Regions from separate parts of the Homo sapiens genome. Here region 2 is linked to region 1. The links come from fine-mapping of genetic effects on gene expression. A gene starts in region 1. The other region holds a variant in brackets. All regions are shown on one strand. Distances are from middle to middle. Region 1 holds the start of TRIQK (triple QxxK/R motif containing). Region 2 overlaps TRIQK (triple QxxK/R motif containing).

The links. PIP is the estimated chance that this variant, and not a neighbour inherited with it, causes the effect.
Region 2: its variant is fine-mapped to the expression of TRIQK in whole blood (TOPMed, PIP 0.97).

The regions. Positions count from the first base shown.
Region 1 is chr8:92,960,853-92,970,866 of GRCh38, forward strand. It overlaps TRIQK (triple QxxK/R motif containing), which reads right to left and starts at 5,292. Exons shown (of 5, transcript NM_001171797.2): 1 at 5,155-5,292. RefSeq lists an enhancer at 4,499-4,608 and a silencer at 5,279-5,388.
Region 2 is chr8:92,891,237-92,901,250 of GRCh38, forward strand. TRIQK (triple QxxK/R motif containing) reads right to left here. Exons shown (of 5, transcript NM_001171797.2): 4 at 753-838. Among named protein-coding and RNA genes, the nearest start is that of TRIQK, 70 kb to the right of the region's middle. The variant G/A (reference allele first, on the strand shown) is at 4,450.

The DNA.
Region 1 (10,014 bases):
TGTGTTATTTTAAGTCACTAAATGTGGGGTAATGTGTTATAAGAGGAACAAAACTGATACGGCTCTCATATTTTCAGTTTCTCATCATTTTGTTTTCTCTTACTATCTTCTCTCTGACACTTCATCACTGTCTGTTATTTTTACATGAAGTTCTCCTATCCATAGAAGCCATGTATTCTTGAATGTGTTGGACGGCAAATAACTCCCCGAAATGTTCTTCCTTCCTTAGCTTAAAATTATTTTTAGAGATTCATAGGTATGCCTCTGAGTTTTCTACTGATAACCTCTGCCTTGATTTTGTAGGATGTCTTGTTTCACTTGATTTATTTTCAAATGTTAATTTATCCAGAATATTTTAGCACTGAAAAAACTGTATAGATAATTTCTACATAAGCCAGTGTTTTCCATTTATCGATAAAGGGGACGGTGTTGAGGGGAGGCAGAAAATGAACTCCCTAGGAATGCAGACAAAGCAGAATCGGAAACTGGGAGGTTCTTTTTAAAACTGTACCTTCCCATCCTGAAAAAAAAAATCTGATATACCTCCTCTGCCCAGAGAGATTCAGTACTATATACTGAGTCACTGTGAATGACGGCAACGTATTATAATGCTCAAGCATGTTGTTCAAAAAAAAGAAAAATCTTCAACCTTTTCCACATAGATAATTAACTTGACTGGAAAGTTATTAATACCCAACAAAGGATATTTCTACCTACAGAGCTAAGTCTAAAACTTTCAATACAGTGCACCTTCCACCTGCTATAGGTAATAAACTATAATCCACAATTAGGACTTTGCCACAGGTATCCATATAGTTCATTATTCCATACCCTGCAATATTTGAATATTTTAACATTCAAAGTATGTAAAACAAATGTTATTTGGATTAACCTATCTTTCTTTTGTCATTGTCAAACTTTTAAATTGTTCAATACAATTGGTCTGTTATTTTTGCAACTACGTCACTAAATAATACTACTACAGAAGAACTAAGCTAGTTTATGCTGTTGTCATTCTCCACTTCAGTGGCTTAAAAGTCATGTGACTGACAAGAGTCTTTCATTAATGGAACTGTCTTTGCCTTTTGAGTCAAAAAAACTGTTAAACCACTGAATATGGAGTATTTACCTTTTTATTGTTTAACATTTCAAAATTACGAATTAAGTAGGAATCATTTATTTTTCATGGAAACATACACCTATCTCACTCTATTGTTGCAAAGATGCTGAACATTTCTACCATATAAAAAAGGTATAAATATATATAATGGTATGAAAAATTAGCTCTAGGCCTACATGATCCTTATCTGTTTAATAGGAAATTTGAGAATATCAAATATGATCAAATATGTATCACTATTTTCCATTAGTATTATTTTAGTCACTCTGGATGAATACCAAAAAACCACAAAATTCTAAGTAATATTGTTTAAGACATTAACACTTTGAGTCAAATCTACTGATATCAAAAACACAGATACATATGCACAAAGATTAAGGAGAAAGCTGGCTGAGTTTCGCGTTTCTACATAGAAGAATGTCCACTGGAGCAGGGACTCTCAAAAGATGCTTTGGCATTGGAGTGAGACAAAGAAATTCTTTATTGAGCTGATAGATCTCTACATTACACAATATTTATCATCTCTGAACTTCAGGATCCCAAAAGCCAGTAGTACTTCCTTTAAAGAAATTAGAATAATTTTAAAACACCCTGGCATATTTCAAATACCCCAGAGGTGTCACCCAGAATGGAAAACCATTCTGGAAATGGAAAACCAGAGCACTAGATTAACAGTCCTGGCCTCAGATCCCACTTCTTCTTCACAGCTTACCAAAAAGAGACGTATCTGACCGGTTCACATTACTCCACCGGTAGAGCTAACCCATTATAAACCACTAAGCACTGGAGATTTTCCATCTTTTATTAGACCTCTGCCCTACACCATGAAAAGCAGTAATTGTAAGTAAGCGTATCTGTTCCGCAATCTGAAATTTTTCTCTCAGCTGAACTAAAGTCTAGGTTCTGGGAAAGAGAGTAGGAGTAAAAGGGGATAGGAAGTACTAGTACTCATTTTTGGTCTCATTTTTGCATAAAGCACTATCCCCACTCGACTTGTTATTGCAAGTTGAAGTTGATATGGCAGGCGCCACATGTCTGTTTACAAACGCAAGAGAGGAAGGAAAGAGCTATTATTGAGCCCCTAAAAATCTCTAAATCCATTGTAATGCTCTCTCTAAGCCATTTGTCTTTATCCCTGTTTCTCTACCAGAAATGAACAGAGTTGAATAAAGAAAGAGTCAAGTACCAAACAGTTCAAATAAAATTACAAGTACTAACGAAATAACAGGTGCATATATACATTTATGCGTTTTACAAAAGCAATAGCTCTTTACCTCTTCAAGTTTTTCCTTATCCAATAACAACTTTTTATATCTACTACTGATATCCACTTTTATTGATAAAGCTAGATAGGGAATCAGACCAAAGAAAATAATGAACTCTATTTACAGATTTCTATATGAATATAGAAATCAGGAAAAGAGCCACAGTGAAAACAACCACAATTCTTTTTAGCCACAAATTAAAATGTTATAAAAGATTATTCACTTAAGTTTAAAAAAAAAAAAACAGTTCTAAGTATCAAGTAATGATATTCCAGTGGCATGTACTAAAAATAATCAGCTTTTCTTTGTCCAAAACGGACCTCGATAGATGAGAAAGTTTATGGATTTAATGTTCATCTCAAAAGTACAATTTTGGCCAGACGCGGTGGCTCACCCCTGTAATCTCAACACTTTGGGAGGCCGAGGCGGGCGGATCACCTGAGGTTGGGAGTTCGAGACCAGCCTGACCAACATGAAGAAACCCCGTCTGTACTAAAAATACAAAATTAGCCAGGTGTGGTGGTGCACTCCTGTAATCCCAGCTACTCGGGAGGCTGAGGCAGGAGAATTGCTTGAACCAGGAAGGCAGAGGTTGTGGTGAGCTGAGATAGCGCCATTGCACTCCAGCCTGGGCAACAAGAGTGAAACTCCGTCTCAAAAAAAAAAAAAAAATACAGTTTCACATTTTTCTCAAAATATTTGACAATGTTCTTTTTACTTGTTTAAATACCAGAATATGCTTTAAGAGGTTATGATCAAAGGGCATTTGGGATAAAACATAGATTACATGGTTTTGTAAGATAGCAACAAATAACTGAACATTAGTAGTTCCCGTTTGTTAGTGCTCAAAAAAACAAAAAAGTACAATGGGAAAGGGGGCCCCAAAAGGGAACTGCAGATGACTGAAGGCCTTGAACAAAGGTATGTTATGGTAAGAGGCACTGTGGAAGAAAGGCAAAAGCCCCACTCTGCTCCCAGCTATGTAGCCTTGGGTAAAAGTTACTTAGTCTCTCTGTAGGATGAGGCAAGTGGGAGAGAATAATTTCCTTATCCCTAAAGAAGTTGAACAAAAACAGGGTCCATTTAGGCTTAAAATTGTGCATTTTTCTGAGGAGCAAGTCAATAGCTTTCCTTGGTTTCTCAAAGTGGTAAATGACACCAAAAAGGTTAGTCATCCTCGCATTAAAAGGTAATGTTTCCCAATCTTTTCAGGTATATATATATATCTATATATATATATATATCTAGTGATATTAAAGAGGAAAAGGTGTCATTCAAGACATTACAGGTTCTACCTAACCAGAACCAACACAGAATCAATAATGAATAGATGAGTTAATTTCTTCCCCATTTCTAAATAACCCTAAGATTAAAAAAAAAAAAAATCACAAGGGAAATTTGAAAATACTTAAAGCTGAATGGCAATACTTATACGTGTTTATAAATTTGGATCATATACACAAAAAGATTAAAAGTGTAATCAATAATGCTTTACATTTGTGTGGATCATTACTTTAATGATACTTTCACAACCAATTATTCCTCCTTTTTTAGGAAGGAAGGGCATATCCTAGAGTCTCCAATTTACAGATAACGAAACAATTATTGCCCAAGGACAAACATTTCTTAACCATGCCAGTTTCCTGACTTGTAGGCCAATGCTCCTCCCAATGTTAACAAGCAGCACAAGCTTCCTTCCTGGGGGTTTGCACTGTAAACCTGCCAGAGGAAAATAAAAGATTTTTACCTCTTTTGTTTTTTCTCTCTGGAATGTTTGTTGTGCTGAATCATTAGGAGACAGAGTATATGAGCAAACAAAGGCAGATTTAAAATGGTTATCTGAGGTTACCATCTCACACCATACTTGTTGATCATTAAGTATGAGCCGAGTGAAGCAAAAACAGCTCTACAGGTTTAGCACACCTCTCCACAGTAGAGAATGAAAGGGAGATTATACATTGGGGCTCCTCTAGCAATAAATTGCTTCAACTTCTTCAGGAGGCTTATTAAGCTCAAACAAGCAGCAGAGAACTCCAAGTAGAAGAAACCTAATCTCCAATCCCCTTTTCCTAGTCATCCACGCGGACACCAACATCTGATGGATTCAGGAATACACCAAGCTCCAAGAAAAATACCCCCGCCCCACAACCTCACCACCACCGATAAAGCCACCTAATCCTGTCTGAATCTCTTCTCTGCAAATGTTTTGGTATGCAAATACTCGTTCATTAATAAGAGGAAGCAGGAAAAAGAGTGAAGAGGAGTACCATGGGAAAGGGGGCCCCAAAAGGGAACGGCAGAACCCAGAGAGCTGCACTGACAAGTAAGCGACCGCGAGTAATCGGTCAGCACAAAGGAGCCAATCCCGAGCCGCGTGGAAGACCTTGGGAGGTGGGCGGGACTAACGTGTCCAGGGCCCAGCGGCTGGCGCCAGACACGCTGGCAGGGCGGGAACCGCGCGTTCCTTAGCAACCGCAATGGCCACGCCCACCGAACCCAGCACCCTCCATCCCCCATCCCGCAGCCAGCGCCCTACTCAACGGGAACGGGTCCTTCAGTGATCACCGTACCTACTGGGTTTCCCGGACTCCGGGTTTCTCTTGCAGAGCCTCCCTCCGCCCAGCCCCACCAAGTGCCGCTCCCAGGGACGGAACGATCGTCTCCCAAACGCTTTAGGGCTCGCTAAAGAGGTGCGCCCGCTTTCATTCCCGGACCCCGAGCTTCCCGGGCAGGGTCTCCCCAATCCCCTCGCACTCGCCGGACACACACCTCAGCTCTGCCAAGGCAAGGGCCGACAAACTTCGTGTCCTGTGGGAAATGTTGCTGTCCACGGTTCTGTCACTCAGGGGCAGGGGCGGGACAAGCCAGCCGCACACCCCTACTCCCAAAGGGTGAGGCGGAAAAGAGGCGAGGCTCTGCCCCCAGGGGCGGGACCAGGCCTCAGCCTGCTCTCGGATTGGTCGGCCTTTCTCCCGTCTGTACGCCGGTCCAGGACGCAAAGGCGCTGGCCCTGAGGCCTTTCCCTCATTTTGATGCCACTCCGGAGTTCTAATACCTGTCTCACGAGGTGACTGTAGAAATTAAAAATAAAGACTGTGACTTGTTTAGTTAATATAAAACGGAAAAATATGTTATTTTGATTATTGAACCCTCCCATCTCACACACACACACTCCCCAATTCACAGGATCATCCCTAAGGAGCGTCCCTAAGTGGAAGGGCGCACTGTCTGTGTAAACAATCAATTAATTGCCCATTCAAACAGCAAAAAAGAAAAAAAAATCGTTTTATATTAACATTAACCAGAGATTAATAAATTTAGGAAAGATTGCAAAAACGTGACTGACAATTAGGATTTAGGAGCCTATGTTCGGGTACTCAATTTTCACATCTACAAAATGGGAATGAAATATTAAGATGTTACTTATTGGAAAAGTATTCAAATATTAAATGCTTTATAAATTATACTCATGTAATCCTTACAAAACCCACTAAGAGTATTATCCACAGCCTATGGACAATGAAACACAGGCTAGGAAAGGCTAGATTTATTCAACCATTCAACAAATCTAAGTGCCTGCAGCCATCATTTTTTAATATTGTGGTGAACTAAATCTAAAATTCCTTCAAAAAATTATGCAACCTCCAATTTAATTTTTCTCTTGCTCACATAAAAGTCACCTTCCTCTAGGCCAGCCCCATCATATCTTTTTCCAAAAGCCCTTGAGAAAGAAAGTAGCATACAAAAAAAAAAAAAAAAAAAAAACTGAGACAAGTATAAATAGACTAACCAGAAGGCTTTCTGAAATCTCACAGAATATTATGGCCAGGAATTGAATCCAAAATGTAATTTTATTTTCCGTCCTCCTAAATCATTTTCTGGTCTCCAGTTCCTCTCCCAGAAATAAAGGTAGAGTTAAATGAGATTATATTAATACACTTAACCAGATTACTTATGTGTGTGGCTTTAAAATAGTGAAACTCTTTTTCCTTCCATATTAAACCAAAACCCAGAAGGGTTTATCTTGTCTGATAGATACGGTTGTAGTAAGAAAAAAGAAAAAAAAAAAGAGTACCTCTGGACAAGTGCCTTGAGATTCAATTAAAATGTTCATCGTACTGTGATGCAATTGTTGGAATAAAAGAAACCCATTCCAATTACAAATAATTTTACACTCTTGACCTGCTGAATATCCAAATTCTTCTGAAAGCTTGCTAAATGTGAATAACTCTCTATAAAACTTTCTTGATTTGTATGACTCAGAGTCCCCATTTTCTTTAATCTTTTAAAAATATTTGGTTTGGCCAGGTGTGGTGGTTCATGCCTGTAATCCCAGCACTTTGGGAAGCTGAGGTGGACGGATTGCCTGAGGTCAGGAGTTCCAGACCAGCCTGGCCAACATGGTGAAACCCCGTCTCTACTAAAAATACAAAAATTAGGCAGGCATGGTGGCAGGCACCTGTAATCCCAGCTACTCAGGAGCCTGAGGCAGGAGAATTGCTTGAGCCCGGGAGGCAGAGGTTGCAGTGAGCCGAGATTGCATCATTGCACTCCAGCCTGGGCAACTGAGTGGGACTCCATCTCAAAAAAAAAAAAAAAAAAAAATTAGTTTTAGACTAAAAAGAAAGAGTTATGATTATATATTAATAAATATATAAATAAATGCTGTAAGATTTAAATAAAAGTGGTGAATGTACTTGAGTCCATTTTCATTACATAAAGATGTACAGCAATGCATTTGTACAGCAAATGCATTGAATATTCTCACATATGTAAGATATTATACAACAAGAAGTAAATAGCTTAATGTAAAATTAAAACTTCCAGATGTATGTTATATGCTTATTTCTTTACCATATAAAGACATATATTATTGACTTACATTTCTAGCAAATTGAAATATAATTGGCTGCATAGTATTCTATGGTGTATATGTGCCACATTTTCTTTATCCAGTCTATTATTGATGGGCATTTGGGTTGGTTCCAAGTCTTTGCTATTGTGAATAGTGCTGCAATAAACATACGTTGGCATGTGTCTTTATAGTAGCATGATTTATAATCCTTTGGGCATATACCCAGTAATGGAATTCCTGGGTCAAATGGCGTTTCTGGTTCTAGATCCTTGAGGAATCACCACACTGTCTTCTACAATGGTTGAACTAATTGACACTCCCACCAACAGTGTAAAAGCATTCCTATTTCTCCACATCCTCTCCAGCATCTGTTGTTTCCTGCCTTTTTAATGATCACCATTCTAACTAGCATGAGATGGTATCTCATTGTGGTTTTGATTTGCATTTCTGTAATGACCAGTGATAATGAGCTTTTTTTATATGCTTATTGGACGCATAAATGTATTCTTTTGAAAAGTGTCTGTTCATATCCTTCACCCACTTTTTGATGCGGTTGTTTGTTTTTTTCTTGTAAATTTGTTTAAGTTCCTTGTAGATTCTGGATATTAGCCCTTTGTCAGATGGATAGATTGCAAAAGGTTTCTCCCATTCTGTAGGTTGCCTGTTTACTCTAATGATAATTTCTTCAGCTATACAGAAGCTCTTCAGTTTAATTAGATCCCATTTGTCAATTTTGGCTTTTGTTGCAACTGCTTTTGGAATTTTAGTTATAAGTCTCTGCCCATGCTTATGTCCCGAATGATATTGCCTAGGTTTTCTTCTAGGGATTTTATGGTTTTAGGTCTTACGTTTAAGTCTTTCATTCATCTTGAGTTAATATTTATATAAGGTATAAGGAAGGGGTCCAGTTTCAGTTTCCTGCATATAGCTAGCCAGTTTTCCCAACACCATTTATTAAATAGGGAATCCTTTCCCCATTGCTTGTTTTTGTCAGGTTTGTCAAAGATCAGATGGTTGTAGGTGTGTGGTGTTATTTGTGAGGCCTCAGTTCTGTTCCACTGGTCTATATATCTGTTTTGGTACCAGTACCATGCTGTTTTGGTTACTGTAGTATAGATTGAAGTCAGGTAACATGATGCCCCTCTTTGTTCTTTTTGCTTAGGATTTTCTTGGCTATATGGGCTCTTTTTTGGTTACATATTTAGAATTATGTTTCTGTGTTTCCAAGTATTTGAGAGTTGTCTAATATCTTACAGTTATTGACTTTTAATTCCATTGTAGTTAGAAAATATATATTGTAATATTTCAAATTTTATTGAAAATTATTGACACATATATTATAACCCAACATATGGTTTATCTTTATGACTGTTCTCAGTGTATTTGGAAAAAAAATGTGTATTCTGAAATTATGGAATGCAGTATGCTCTAAATGTTGATTATAGTCTATATCTTATGACAGTTTTTTTTTTTTGCTTTTAAAAACATTTTATTTATTTATTTTATTTTTTCATTTTACTTTAAGTTCTAGGATACATGTGCAGAATGTGCAGATTTGTTACTTAGGTATACATATGCCATAGTGATCCTTACCAACATTTTTAAGCATATTCTATCACTTATTGAAAGAAAGGTGTTAAATCTCCAACTATGCTTGTGCATTTGTTTATATTTTCTTTTTTTAAAAAAAATTAATTTTTTTTAAATTTTAGGTTCCAGGATACATTTGCAGAATATGTGGGTTTGTTACACAGGTAAACTTGTGCCATGCTGGTTTGCTGCACCTATCAACCCATCCCTTAGATATTAAGCCCAGCATGCATTAGTTATTTATCCTGATGCTCTCCCTCTCCAAATCCTCCCCTAGCAGGTCCCTGTGTATGTTGTTCCCCTCCCTGTGTCCATGTGTTCTCATTGTTCAGCTCCCACTTATAAGTGAGAATATTCAGTGTTTGGTTTTCTGTTCTTACATTAGTTTGCCGAGGGTAATGGCTTCTGGCTCCATTCACGTTCCTGCAAAGGACATGATCTCATTCCTTTTTATGGCTGCATAGTATTCCATGGTGTATATGTACCACATTTTCTTTATCCAGTCTATCATTGATGGGCATTTGGGTTGATTCTATGTCTTTGCTATGGTGCATAGTGCTGCAATGAACATGCGCATGCATGTATCTTTATAATAGAATGATTTGTATTCCTTTGGGTATATACCAAGCAATGGGATTGCTGAGTGGAATGGTGGTTCTGCAGTTCTGCTTCTAGGTCTTTAAGGAATTGCCACACTGTCTTCCACAATGGTTGAACTAATTTACATTTCCACCAACAGTGTAAAAGTGTTCCTATTTCTCCACAGTCTCACCAGCATCTGTTGTTTCTTGACTTTTTAATAATTGCCATTCTGACTGGTGTGAAATGGTATCTCATTATAGGTTTTGTTTGCATTTCTCTAATGATCAGTGATGTTGAACTTTTTTTCATATGTTTCTTGGCCACATAGATGTCTTCTTTTGAGATGTCCCTGTTCGTGTCTTTTGCCCACTTTTTAATGGGGTTGTTTTTCTCTTGTAAATCTGTTTAAGTTCCCTGTAGATTGTAGATATTAGACCTTTGTCAGATGGATAGACTGCAAAAATTGTCTCCCATTCTGTAGGTTATCTTTTCACTCATGATAGTTTCTTTTGCTATGCAGAAGCTCTTTAGTTTAATTAGGTCTCATTTTTCAATTTTTGCTTTTGTTGCAATTGCTTTTGATCTTTTGTCATGAAATCTTT
Region 2 (10,014 bases), 70 kb before region 1:
TCATCTGCCAGATAAAACCCAAAATCTCCTTTTAACATGTTAATATTTAAATAAAATATATGTACTGGTCATTTTTATTTTACACCTTTGATAGTAGAGTTGCCAAATTAATTCTTCTATTAATAGTTTAATTCAACTCTAAATACCTGGCAAAAGATTGACATGGGCAATAATGTAAATGCAATTTGTTGAGCTTCATTGTGTTAGCACATTAAATTAATATCTGCTAACATCATTCTCAGTTGCATTTATCCCTCTTAAGCAGATAAAACACTGGTATTCTGAAAGAACAAGTTTAGGAATGTCATTATAATTTCATCAGAGAGTACTGACAACAATAAGATAAGCAGAGTAAAATTACATAATTAATGATCTCAGTATATATAATTACAACTACAATTTAAACAACTATAAAATGAGATTTATTGAAAAACGAAAGAAATTTCTGACGAAGGCCACATATATCACTGAAATGTCTGAATAATACACATAGTAGCTAGAGAGAAAATAAATTGCACCTTTAAGTATAACTGATTCTCTTAAGTGACACTGTTTTAAGACCCTTCAAAATCTCAGAATAGGAAGGATGTTTTCCATTAAGTAAATTCTTTACAAAAACCTTTAAGTCTGGCATTCTATTTAGATTGTGAAATGTCATAAAACATTTAGAATTCAACATTTATGCAATCCAGTTTTAGAAAATGAAATGGCATGCACATATCAAATTTTAAAGTTATCAAATAGAGGTTTACCTTTATGCCTATTGCTGTTTTCTTTGCTTCTGCTTTTAATTTGGTTGCTCGTAAAATAGGTTTAGTTTTTTTATAATCCTGTTTACCTAGAAAGAAATAGTTTCAGACAATGAGTTATGCTCATATATAATTAAGTTTAACAATCATTTGAAATGTCAAAGAATGTTTAAATACAGTGAAACAGGGACACGGAGTTGCAAAGTAGTTCCCAGTTGTGGTAACCATAAACTTGTCACCAAAAGGTCAACTTTTCCTTCTCTCTTACTTTTTCAGGAAGAGGATACTGACGGACATCTTCAATTTGCTGTATAGTGAATGTCAAAAAAGATAAAAACTTGTTTTAGAGAACACAAAATTTAAAGTAAAGAAAATAAAACTTTTGGAAGCATTTGGAAACAGATGCATAAGTAAATGAGTATATGTAAGATCCTATTAACAGCTAAAGTTAACTTTGTCTTCCTAAGAGTAACAGCTAATTATAAATGTATTTTATTATGGATACGTTAAGCATTCAAAACATAAGTGAGAAATATCCCCAAGTTTCCTTTAAGTAAAAGACTAAAGAAGAAATCTATAAATATTTAACTTTTAGCCCCACCCTGAATTCATTAGAAAAATATTTCTTTTATTTCCTCTTTTATTTCCTCTTAATAGAGAACAAAATTAACATGGCTAGATAGAAGTTATAGAATAGCTACATTTAGATATTAGTTTCAATAATTTCTTCCACATTTCATAGCCAAAAATGTGCGAAACTGAGTTAGTGCCACAAAATTTCCTTTGTGTATCATCTAGTGACTCCAGCAAAGAGTAACAAAAGTGGATTACACAGCCTGGGGAGAATATAGGTTTAACAACAAGAACAAGAACAGTGAAAGCATTCATTACAATGATATACTTTTTGTTAGCCAACTCTTAACTAGGAACTGAGTCAAAATGAGCCTCAAACATAACAATATAATATTTTATTCTCAGGAGGAGTTAATACATGATCGTATAATCTCTCTGGCTATTTTATATTCTTATTTTGTTTTATTTTCATCTTTTCCCCTTCCTTTCGATGACCAGTTCCTTTACAAAACTCATCGCTACATTCCCTTCATCTAAATAATACAAATTCTAACATTAATTTCCACATCTTCTTCACATTGAAATAAATTGAAAAGCAATTGGTCTAAACTCAAGTATATCATAAAAATTTAATGTGCAATATATCTTAATGTGTCTGCTAATGATTCAAAAGTATCTTTAAAATTTCATACAGAGTTTTAGAACTAGAAATGGTAGTCAAATGGATGGGCGTAGTGAAGAAACATTATATTTATGTCCATTAGACACATAAAAGTGTTTGTTTGGCTGGAAAGCAAGGTATTTTGTTTTTAAAGGATTGTCTTCTCTTTCCTTAACTGCTATTGTATAGCAATAACTCTGGATCAATGAGCATGCAGAAGCTTAATAAATATTATTTGATGATGGGGTCTGATGATCTAGAAATGAGACAATTGTCATAATATGTATCAAATGATCTAAATTTAAATAATGGAATGAACAAAATACATGAGAAAAATGTTACTCTGACCCATTTTAAATTAGCAATATTTAATTCTGATGAAAAAAATCTTGACAAGTGTTCACTCTAATTTCACATCTCTACAGTCAAACTATTCATGTCATTATTCCTGCTGAGCTATAAACAGTTCAGAACAATGAAAATGGTGACACATCAAAGGCCTCCGGTCAGGGTTACCAAGCAAGTTTCTAACAAGAATTCTGAAAGATATTTGAAGATTGTAGATTTATCACAAAGTAACTTCTTGTTTTATCCTGTATATGCCCTATAATAATCTCTTGATGCTATGGCGGGGGGTGGGGGGTGAGCAGCAGGAATAAACAGATGCAAGAGGATTATCTTAATTCATATTTTTTATACAGATATGAAATATTTTGGATAATGTATCTGTCATAAAACACATGCAAATATCTAAGAGTCAATACTAAAATGAGAATTTTTCACTCTACTTCAACTGCCATATAACCATTGGTTAAATAATGTATTCTATTTCAATTCAACTCTCATATTCTTAGAGAATAATACTTCCAGATTTGTATTCAAGTTGATATTAACATTTGAAACTGTATTTATAATAAAAAGACAGTATTAAAAGTTATTGTATACCTGGTACTTTTCCAAGCAGTGCATCTGTCATAAATTTAGCATTCTCCTTGTCGACTATGATATCCAAAAGTGTATATTGCAAAATGTGGTTTTAGTTTACTAAGTGACAACATTTACAGGAGTGTCTGGTAGGTTCTTTATAACTAAAGCCAGATCATTCCATTGTACCCAAAGAGGTTTTCAACATTTAAATATTTATGGCTTCAAGAAAGATACCTATGCCCACATGATTGTAAAAAATATAAAATATAGAAGTCCCTGACTTCTGCGTACTTACACCTAAGGGAAAAAAAAAACACAGTTACATAATCTAGATTTTATATGTAGACTGTTTCTTGAACACAACTGATTCTGATTTTGGTTGTATCAGTGATGCAATAACCAAAGTAGCTATTTGACAGTTGCTCATTAAATCTTATGTGGAGAGAAAAACTTGGTAATTCAAGCCTATGAAGCCAATCTGGGGCCTCAATCAAGCCCAATGTCTGAGCTTCCTTAGGAACAGGTTCTACTGCATTTTTCTGTGTATGAACTAACCTATTAGTTCTTTATGTGTTTCATAATTTTAAATTGAAAATCAAACATATTTGATAATGTAATGTGGAAACTCTGCAAACTAGATCGTCCCTGAGGTTTGTTGTTACTGTTATTTGCTCTTTGTTGTTGTTGTTAGAATCCCTTTGTTTAGTAACTTTACTGAACTAATTCTATAGAGACTGTATTCAATAGTATATGGTCACTGAAGTCTCTGCACAGTTACCTTATTGGTCATCTGCTGTGGTTTAATGTGTCCCCCAAAATTCATGTTGGAAACTTAATTTCCAGTGCAACAGTTTTGAGAGGTGGGATCTGTAAGAGGAGAGTGGATCATAAGGACTCTGCCCTCATGAATAACTTAATGCCATTATTGTGAGAGTGGGTTAGTTATCATAGAAGTTAGTTCATAATACAAAGATAAATTCAGTTTACTTCCTCATTCTCTCTTGTGCATGCTCTTTGGCCCTTCTGCCTTCCACCATGGGATAATGCATTCACAAGGCCCTTGCCAGAGGCAGGCCCCTCCAGCTTAGACTTCCCAGTCTCCACAATCATAAGAAATAAATATCTGTTCTTTACACATTTTCTAATCTCAAAGGTTTTGTTATAGCAGCACCAAATAGACTAAGACAGAAAACTGGTACCAAGAAGTAGGGGTGCTGCTATAACAAACACCTGGAAATGTGGAAGTGGCTTTGGAAATGTGCAATGGGGAGGGGCTGGATGAATTTGAAAGAGCAGGCTAGAAAAACCCTGTATTGCCATGAAGGAAGCATTAAAGGTGATTCTGGGGGGTGCTCAGAAGAAATGGTGAGATGTAAGGAAAGTCTGAATCTTCTTAGGGATTATTTGAGTAGTCATAATCAGAATGTTTGTAGAAACATGAAAAGTAAAGGCCATTTTGATGAGGTCTCAGATGGAAATGGGAGACATCTTATTGGGACCTGGAGTAAAGGCTATCCTTGTTATAAATTGGCAAAGAAC[G/A]TGGCTGAATTGCTTCCATGTCAAATACTTTATATGGAAGACAGAATGTACAAGCAATGGACTAAAGTATCTGCCAGAATAAATTTCTAAGCAAATTACTGAAGGAGTTGTATGACTGCCTTTTACCTCATATAGTGAGATGTGCAAAAAAAGAAATGACTAAAAGGTAAAATTTACAATTAAAAGAGAAACAGGAGGAAAAGATTTATAAAACTCTCAGCCTGGCCATGTAAAGAATAAAAAAAAAGTGTGCTGAGGAGAGAATACTAAAGGTGTGACCAAGCAACCCTTTGCTAAAGAGATTACTAGGGAGAGAAGGGGACCAGGTGCTATTCATCAGGACAATGAGAGAAAGACCTCAAAGACATTTCAGAGATCTCTGAGAATGCCCCTCCCAAAATAGATCCAGAAGATCTTAAGGGCAACATCTCCAGAGAGGCTTCCAGGGGACCTCTGTATTCACTGCCTGGAGTTGCCTTGGGACTCTGTTTCTCACATTCCAGCACAGCACCCCTCAGCCATGCCAGCTGTGGCTTAAGCAGGCCCAGGTGAAGTTTGTGCTGCAGCTCCGGGGACACAAGGGATAAGTCTTAGCAGGGTTCATGTAGTGCTGATTCTGCAGACTTACTGATTTCATGAGCTGTGGGGCCATGGAGGCCCCCAACTAGACTTCAAAAGATGTTCTGGACAGCCTGGGGACCCAGGCAGAAACTTGTTGCAGGGATGAAGCCACTGCAGAGAGCCCTGACTAGGGCAATGCCTAGTGAAGCCACAGGAGAAAAGCCACCTCAGAGACTCAAGAATTATAGAGCTACCAGTGTGCAATTACAGTCTGGGAAAGAACCAGTCAAGAGACTCCAACCTGTGAGAGCTGCTGGGTGGTTTGAACCCAACAAAGCCATATGGGGAGGGTTGCCTGAGGCCTTAGGGGCCCAATGCCTGCCCCAATGTGACCAGGATGTGGGACATGGAGTCAAAGGATATTATGTCCAGCTTTAAGATTTAATGTTGTTTTCCCTGTTGGGTTTTGGACTTGCTTGGAATCTGTTACTACTTTTTTCTTGCCTAATTCTCCCTTTTGGAATGGGAATGTCTGTGGTAGGCTTGTGTCAACATTGCATTTTCTTTTTCTTTCTTTTTTTTTTTTTTAGATGTTGTTTCACTCCTGTCTCCCAGGCTGGAGTGCAATGGCATGATCCTGGCTCACTGCAACCTCTGCCTCCCAGGTTCAAGTGATTCTCCTGCCTCAGCCTCCCAAGTAGCTGGGATTACAGGCATGCACCACCACGCCTGGCTAATTTTTGTATTTTTAGTAGAGATGGGGTTTCGCAATACTGGCCATGCTGGTCTTGAACTCCTGACCTCAGGTGATCCACCCACCTCGGCGTCCCAAAGTGCTGGGATTACAGGCATGAGCCACCATGCCAGGCCCCAGCATTGTACTTTGGAAGTAGATAATTTGATTAATTTCACAGGCTCACAGATGGAGAGGAATTTGCCTCGAGACGAATGATGCCTTGAGTCTTACCCACATGTGATTTTAAATGAGACTTTGGATTTTGAAATTTTGAGTCGATACTGGAAGGAGGTAAGACTTTTGGGACTATTGAGATGGAATGAATGTATTTTGCATTGTAAGAAGGACATGAACTTTGAAGGCCAGGGCTAGAATGCTATAATTTGAATGTGTCCTGAAAAGTTCATGTTTTGGAAACTTAATCTCCAATTCAACAACATTGAGAGGTGGGACTTTTAAGAGATTATTAGGTCATAAGGGCTCTGCCCTCATGAATGAATTAGTTATCACAGGAGTGGGCTCATGATAAAAGAATGAGCTTGGTCCCTTTCCTCTTGCTTTCTTGTATGTGCTCTTTTGTCCTTTATTCTTCCCCATTAGGATGATGCGTTGACCTTTGACTTTCCAGACTCCAGAACTTTAAAAAATAGATTTCTTTTCTTTATAAATTACCCAGTCTCAGGTATTCTGTTATAGCAGCACCAAATGGACTAAGACATCATGTAATGACTGGACAGATATTTCCTTAAATGCTTTGAACCACTAAGTCTCTTAATTTTGCTGAGGAGCTATGTGACTATTTGTGTGTGTGTCTGTATATGTGCATGCAGGTATATGTGTATGTTTTTGTGTTGGGGTACATCTCCATGCTACAACAGAGGTTTATAGTTATGCCTTAGCCTTCACTTCTGCTTGTGAAGAGCCTTAAGTCCACCAAGAGGTAAGAGATTATAGGTTCCTCACATCTTTAATGGGCATGATATAGCCCTGCTCGTGCACATGACCTTCTAGATTCTCAGGAATCTGTCAGACCTTTTAAAAAATTCTATGGGCATGTTGTTCCCCTGTTTTTGCTTTTATTCTTTGGTCAGTCTCATGTTTAACCCCACTAGTAATGATGCTTCAGGCAACTACAATGTTAAACACTTGTTGTTCATTGTTTTTGTCAAATGCCACAGAGAAAGGGCTCTTCACACAGAGTTAGCTCTAAGTAAAGTCAAATAAAGACAAGTTTTGAGAAAGGGGCTTTTCAGTGAGTTTCCAGACTGGTCAAATTGTGACAAGTCTTGAGGATGGGGGCTTTGCATATCTCCAAATGAATTTTGCCTTCTCCAGTGGCTGCTACGCTAACGTTTTCCGTAACTACTGTAGTTGAAAGGCTAAAGAAAAGAAAATGGCATTAAGGCAAGTTAAAACACCACAAAGATTGCAGATATTACTGAGATTCACCTGTTTTTCTGAAATAAACACTCCTTAGATGGTTTTAAGATTTTAGTTAATTTTCAGGTTTCTGGAAAACATTGATTTTGATAGTTTTCACCAGTGTTCTCACTGGCTTTATATAAAAGCAGATTTTCAGAGGTTTTTACTTTCCACTCAAGAAGTACTTCTCCTCCATAGCTTTAATTTTACTATCATCACATTTAAAGTTAGTATGTTGGATTTTTACATTAATTTTCATTCATTTACAATTTTTATAACCATAAAATAGGATACAATGGCTGAGTCAAACAGAGGTTGCTGCTTAAAAGCTCAGTGTTGGTAATCTATCAGTTATTTCAGGCTGAATGTTTCAAATTCTCTTTTTGTTTTTTACTTAATTTTTGCAGGTACATAATAGGTGTGTGTGTGTATATATATATATATATATATATATATATATATATATATAGATGGGGGTACATGAGCTATTTTGATACAAGCATATAATGCATGATAATCACATCAGGGTAAATGCGGTATCTATCTCCTCCAGAATTTTCCTTTCTTTGTGTTGCAAACAATCTGATTATACTACTTTTTTTTTTTTTTCTGGAGTCTCACTCTGTCATCAGGCCAGAGTGCAGTGGCACAATCTCGTCTCATTGTAACCTCTGACTCCTCTGATTCTCCTGCCTCAGCCTCCCAAGTAACTGGGTTTACAGGCACATGACACCATGGCCAGCTAATTTTTGTATTTTTAGTAGAGATGGGGTTTCACCATGTTAGCCAGGATGGTCTCAATCTCTTGACCTCGTGATCTGCCCACCTTAGCCTCCCAAATCACACCTGGGATTACAGGCATGAGCCACTGCACTTGGCCTTTTTCATTATTTTTAAATGTACAATAAGTTTTATCAAATACTAGATCTTATTCATTCTTACTAACTATATTTCTGTGCCCATTAACCATTCCCACTCCTTCCACCCCCTCCCCAATACTCTTCCCAGTCTCTGGTTACCATCCTTTTATTCTCTATTTCCATGAGTTCAATTGTTTAAATTTTTTTAGCTCCCACAAATAAGTGAGAAGATGCCCACTTTTTCTTTCTGTACCTGGCTTATTTCACTTGACATAATGACCTCCAGTTACATCCATGTTGTCGCAAATGACAGGATCTCATTCTTTTTTCATGGATGAACAGTACTTCATTGTGTATAAGTAACACTTTCTATAGCCATTCATCTATTGATGGACACTTAGGTTGCTTCTGAATCTTGGCTACTGTGAATAGTGCTGCAATAAACGTAGGAGTGTAGATATCTTTTTGGTATCCTGATTTCCTTTCTTTTGCATATATACTTAGCAGTAGGGTTGCTGGATCATCTGGTAGCTCTATTTTTAGGTTTTTGGGGGAACCTCCAAACCGTTTTCAATAGTGGTTGTACTAATTTACATTCCCACCAACAGTGTATGAGGGTTTCCTTTCCTCCACATCCTCACCAGCATTCGTTCTTGCACCTTTTGGATAAAAGCCATTTTTAACTGAGGTGAGATGATATTTCATTGTATTTTTGATTTTCATTTCTCTAATGATTAATGATTTTGAGCATGTTTTCATACACCTGTTTGCTACTTGTATGCTCCTTTTGAGAAATGCCTATTCAGATATTTTGCCCATTCAAAACTCAGATTATTAAATTTTTTCCTATTGGGTTGTCTGAGCTCTTCATGTATTCCAGTTATTAATCCTTTGTTAGATAGTTTGCAAATATTTTCTCCCATTCTGTGGGTTGTCCCTTTCACTTTACTGATGGTTTCCTTTGCTGTTCAGGAGCTTTTTAATATGATGTAATCCCACTTCTCCATTTTTGCTTTGGTTGTCTGAGCTTGTGAACTATGATTCAAGAAATCTTTACCCAATCCAATTTCCTGGAGAGTTTCCCCAATGATTTCCTTTAGTAGTTTCATAGTTTGAGGTTTAAGTCTAATGCATTTTGATTTGATTTTTGTATATGGTAAAAGATAGGGTTCTAGTTGCAGTCTTCTGAATATAGATATCCAGTTTCCACAGTACCATTTTTTGAAGAGACTGTCCATATCTTAATGTATGTTCTTAGCACCTTTATCAAAAATGAGCTCACTGTAGATGTAAGAATTTGTTTCTGAGTTCTCTATTCTATTCCATTGGTGTATGTGTCTGGTTTTATGTGAGTACCATGCTGTTTTGGTTACTACAGTTCTGCAGTATAATTTGAAGTCAGTTAATGTGATTCTTCCAGTTTTGTTCTTTTTGCTCAGGATGGCTTTTGCAATTCTGAGGCTTTTTTGGTTTAATATAAATGTTAGGATTACTTTTTCTATTTCTGTAAAGAATTTCATTGGTATTTTGATAGAGATTGCATTGAATTTATAGTTTGCTCTGGGTAGGATAAACAATTTAGCAATATTGATTTTTCCAATCCATGAACATGGAATATTTTCCCATTTTTTTGTGTTCTCTTCAAATTTTTATCATTGTTTTATAGTTTTCATTATAGAAATCTTTAACTTATTTGCTTAAGTTTATTCCTAGGTGTTTTGTTTTATTTGCAGCTATTGCAAATGGGATTACTTTCTTGATTTTTTTTCAGACTCTTTGCTATTGTCATATGGAAATCCTACTGATTTTTGTAGGTTGATTTTGTACAAAAATCAACTCCAGCAACTATACTGAAATTGCTTATTAATTTTAATAGTTTCTCATAAAGTCTTTTGTTTTTTCCAAATATAAGACCATATCATCTGCAAACAAGGATAATTTGATTTCTTCCTTTCCAATTTGGATGTCCTTTCTTTCTTTTGTCTG